Linked DNA regions of Homo sapiens: region 1 is linked to region 2. The links come from fine-mapping of genetic effects on gene expression. A gene starts in region 2. The other region holds a variant in brackets. All regions are shown on one strand. Distances are from middle to middle.

Region 1 (2,500 bases), 48 kb after region 2:
GGACTTAGGTGGGTCAGTCCAGTGGGGAATCATGGGCTGGCTGTGGTCTGAGGGGCAGCCCACAGGAGTCCAGGCAGAGGAGGGTCTGGAGGTGGGAGCTGCAGGAGCCCTGAGTCAGCACCACGGGGCATCTTCACCAGCTCATCCCCAGCCTCTCCATGTATGGCCCAAAGCTGGCATTTCTGATTTCCAGACTCTGCCTCCTGGCACCCACGGTCTTTGTGGATCCCAGAGAGGCTCACCCTGGGACTCAGAAGAGGTGTGCTGTGGAGAGGAAGGAGGCCGAGGCAGCCTGGGGGAGGAGGAAAAACCCAGCATTGGGGGTGTGAAGACCCGTTTAGCTTTCAAACTGGTTCCAAAGATTTGTTCAGGAATTACTCCAGGGGAGGAGTCACCCCTGTCTTTGGGGATGTCTCTGGCGTGTTAAGAGTTTCAGGTAGGATTTTGCTTGGGGAAAAAAGTTCTTCAATATACACACACACACAGACACACACACACACACACATACACACACGCAAAAACAACCAGGGGCAAGTTAATATCTAAGCTCTCTTTCTAGTGCACATAACAGTGACCTATCACCAGTTCCTCCTGGATCCTGGGTAATCCTTTATGGACAGGGACCTTATTTTACATTGTACCCTCAGGGTACAGCCTGGTGTGGCAGGCAAGCCCTTGATGACTGTTTACTGTCCAAGCTGAACACCTGAAGGGGTCACACTACAGGCCAGGCTTGTAGACATCCGACAAAAATCAAGAAGCCTATCTGGCCCTAAATCTGTTGCTGTTCATCCATGTCACACATATCACATGCAAACAAGGCTGCATTGAGATTCTGGAAGGCAAACACACGGCCATATGCCATCTTCTCTGGGCATAGTAAATCAGGTTCTGGGGTGCATGTATATGAGCCCCACACCTTCAGCGCCTCTCAGCACTTTCCTGGGGTCTGATCTTTCTGATCCGGATGAGGTGACTTTGCCCCAGCTACGCTGGATTAGCGCAGGGATGTGCACTTGACCAACCAAAGCCCCCTCCTCAGGAGTGCAGAACTGGCCCCAGGAGATCCTAGCTCACTTTACCGAGACATAAACTTGGGGGGATTTGGGACAGTCATTTCCCATGGCAGGGTCTGGGAGCACAGGGCATCTGTCTGCAGAGGAAGGAGCTCCAAGCCAACGCAGAGAGAGTTTGAGGTGATTCTGCTGCACCCTCCCCAGGGCTCTCTGGAGCTCCAGCGTGGCTTCCTTGTCTCAAGTTCCTCTTTCAGTGTAAAGTCAGCTAGAATTGGTGACTTGCAAAAGACCTGAATCATGCACTGACCTTTTGGCAGGCCCTCTCTTGCTCTAGAGAATCTGGCCTAAGCATGCAGACTCTGGAAATTTATCCCACAGCACGTGCATAGTTTTCGATGCGTCATTTACCCAATGAGGCTGAACCTGGAATT[G/C]GACTTCTACCTGCCCGTCCTTTCCAGGTTTTAACTATGTCCTAGCTCTCTTGACTTGAGCTGGGAAATTCCCTATGCCACTTAGACTCTGCAGCTCAGCTCAAAGGCCCTGATGTGATGCCCCCCTGAAAGCCAGGGCAATCCCACCTCTGCAATGCTGCCGCCGCCACCCTGCCATCTTCCCGAACCTCTGCTCTCAGCTTGTCTCTCCCCAGCCTGGGTCCTGAAAAGGTTCCACTGAGCACAGTGCCTGCTCCCAGCCATCTGTCTTGCCCTCAGCTGTGTGCCAGCCACATGCTAGCCAGGCCCGGCCTGTCCTGCTCTCGCCCTGTTCCCTCCCTGGCTGATTCGAACCCCACACTCCCCTCCCCACCCAGCCAACATCTGGGGACTGCTTCTTCGGGGACCAGCCCCACTGTGTCTTGTCTGATCTCCACGTGTTTCTGCAGTGGCCCTTTCCTGGGTGACCCGTCTGCTCAGAGCAGAAACTGAGATGGGCAGGCCTGCGCCACCTTCCCCTTGGCGCCTTTCCAGTGCTGAGTGTTCTGCCTGGCACAAAGCCAGGGTTCCGCAAACGCTGGTTGAACCGAAACCCACTGTGGTTGCCGGTTCCTGAGCTGGTCTTTCTTCTCGTTCCCATGCCCAGCTCCCAGCCACGAACTGTGGGCTGATCCTGTGGCCGGCTCCCTGTCCTGTGGCCCAGAGAGTGTCTTCGGCTGGGGATCCTGCTGTCGGGGCCCTGCTGTGCCTGCTGCCAGGGCCTCACCAGCCTGCTCTGAGCAGCTGGGCCACACTGAGCACCTGCCCTGCCCTGCTTGGCAGTCAGGAAGGACTTCCTGTTTCTGCTTCTGAAATGGACTGCCAGCTCCAGGGGGCGGCAGGGGACCGGCCCCAACACCCCTGCCATCCGAGTGGCACCTAGGCTGCCCGGCAGCCCTCCCTCACCCCTTCTTGTGTCTCCTGCTATGGGTGGGCTTCAGGAAACGTGCACTTAGCAGGCTGAGGCCTAAACTCAGCTATGGGCTTAGGATCCAGAGGAGGAGCCCTGGAGAG
Region 2 (2,500 bases):
TCCCTCCTTCCCCTATCTGTAGGAGGCTTGCAGGTGTCCAGCTGTCCTTTCGCAGTAGACACATGGTGGTCTCAGGAGCTAACATCGGCCCTTCTACAAGCCAGGGGGACACCAAACACTTGCCTGTCAATCGAGCTCCACTCAGCTGGGTTCAGACAAGCTCAGGGGCTACCCCAGGCTCAGCAGTGCCGACTATAGCCTTGTGCAGTTACTGCTGCACACACGTGAGGACACACAGGAAGGGTACGCATTTGACACAAGCTTCCCATGGAAATACCTTCTCAAACCTGGAGCAGGGTGAGAATGTTGCAGCCCTGGGCCCCTCCTGGGTCAGAAGCTGGCTCAGCCCAGCGTTCACAGAGGCCAGCCTCCCAGAGCCTGAGAAGAGGCCTGCACCAGGCGTGGGCACAGAAGGATGCAGATTGTGCAACAGGAGCCAAGGGCTGGAGAGGCATTCTGGCGAGAGATTTGGAAAGCTTCTGGAACAGGGTGAAACATTCATCAGGTGACCCAGGGGATAGGCTCTCCAGGAAGGAGGCCCAGCTCCAGCAGTAGCCAGAGTTCTGGGCATGTTAGGACGGTGAGGTCCTAGCACGCGGGGGGCGGGGGGCACAGGACAAGGTGTGCGGCAGTGCAGGAAGCCAGCTGAGGCACCCTGACCCTCAGGCCATGCCCTTCTGCTCCTGTGCAGGGGACAGCAGAGGGGAGCTTGGGGACTGACATCTCAAAGGCCTGGTCCCCTCCTTGCTCTCGCAGCCAGTCCTTGCTCTAGGACAGTGACCCATGTCTGCAGCCCGACCCAGCCCACCCACAGAGCCCGGCGTCCCAGAGCTGCTGGGGTGCACGGTGGTCGGGAGGTGAGTGGCTGGGCAGTCCTCCGCAGGGCTGCTGCCAGGTATCAGCCTCGGAGGTTTCCCGGAAACAGAGCCAACGCCCCCCCAAGACCTGGGCAGACCGCATGAGCGTAGGGGTCAGGGGACCGGGTCCCCCAGAGGTGTCAGAAAAATGCTCCCAGGAGGAGGACGCCAGGCTGCTGAGGCCTGTGGCTGACACCAGGGGGCAGGGCGGGGCGGCGGGGACAGCGTCCGGAGGAGGGAGCCGCCCAGACCTAGCCCGGGTGGGGCGAACGAAGAGCGGGCGTGGTGGGCGCCTGCTAGCTCCGGCTCGCGGTGTTAGGCCTTGGGGACATCGCTCGGGGACAGGAGAGCCCCGGGCCCCCGCCGCCCCGAGCCGTGGCCGGGAAGGGGAACACAGTCCATGCGTGCGGCGCCCGACAGCCTCTCCCCGCACGCCCGAGCCCCAGTGCAGGCGGCGGCCCGGCCCCTTTGTGCCTGGAGTGTCACGCGCGGGCGCTCCTGCCGCCGCGCCTGGGAGAGGCCTCCGGCACCCCGGGCCCCTTTCCAAGCACAACAGCAGCCCTGCCGCGGCCCCGCGCTGACCCACTTTCCCTCCTGCCTCCTCAGCCCGAGGCCGAGAATCCAGCGGCCGCCGCCAAGCAGGTGCGAGCCGTCGGGCGGGGCGCGCGGGAGGCGGAGAGGATGGGCCCCTGAACCACCCCGCGCGCCCCACCTCAGCCTCCCGGGGCGAGCCAGGTTTCCGGGGCGGGGGCCGCGAGGAGGAGGAGGAGGGCAAGGCGGGGGAACGGGAGGGAGAGGACCCGGGGAGGGGGAGGGGGAGGCGGAGGGGAAGGGGGAGGCGGAGGGGGAGGGGCAGAAGAAGGGGGCAAGGAGGGCAGAGAGATGAGCGAGAAAGAAAGGAGGGGTGCGGGAAAGGAGGAGAGGAAGGAGCGGTGGGAGGAGGAGGAGGGGTGCGGGAGAGAAGGGCTGAGGGAGAGGCGGAGGGAAACCGCACCCCTGCCTCTTTCCTGGGCCGAGGCCAGCCGGGGAGGAAATGTTGAAATGGGCGAAGTGCACATCCGCCTCCAGGCCTAAGGGGTGTAGGGGTCAGGCCGCACCGACCCCGCCCTTCCCAGCCCTTCCTGCCAGACCTCTGCCTCCGATGGGCGAGCCCGGTTGCTGGGAGGCGGTTCGCTGTGGAGCCTGGACCCTCTCCACAGTTCAGCCCGCCGGAGGCGTGTGCGCTTCCAGATGAGAGCACTTGTTCACTGAATGACCGTGCGTACTTGGGGGGACATCTGGCCCCAGAACCTCCAGGAGCAGGGTGGCTAATGCTGAGTGCCGTGGCCTGGCACTGGGAAGCGCCGGTCCTCAGTCCCTTTCCCTGCTCCTGGGCATCCCAGGCCCCTTGGGGCGTTCTTACACTGCCTGAGTTAGACCTGGAAGAGTCCCCTGTGCCAGGGCAGGGGCTTTGCCTGCTTGGTCCTTGTTCACCCCTGTGTATAGCTACTACCTATTACCTACCCACCTGTCCACAAGTGTCAGTGCCTGATGTAGGAAGTTACAGTAATTCACAAATAAATCTATCACAAAGGGACATGGATACTCACACTTCCTTCTTACCCCTACTTCCAGGCAGCCATTGTTAATGGGTGCGTGTGTAC

The links.
Region 1: its variant is fine-mapped to the expression of LINC02352 in whole blood (INTERVAL, PIP above 0.99).

What each region holds. Positions count from the first base shown.
Region 1 is chr15:31,262,151-31,264,650 of GRCh38, forward strand. No RefSeq gene overlaps it. Among named protein-coding and RNA genes, the nearest start is that of LINC03034, 33 kb to the left of the region's middle. The variant G/C (reference allele first, on the strand shown) is at 1,448.
Region 2 is chr15:31,214,539-31,217,038 of GRCh38, forward strand. LINC02352 (long intergenic non-protein coding RNA 2352) reads left to right here and starts at 1,483. Exons shown (of 2, transcript NR_135834.1): 1 at 1,483-1,499. It overlaps LOC124903454 (a long non-coding RNA gene), which reads left to right and starts at 1,776. Exons shown (of 2, transcript XR_007064556.1): 1 at 1,776-2,500.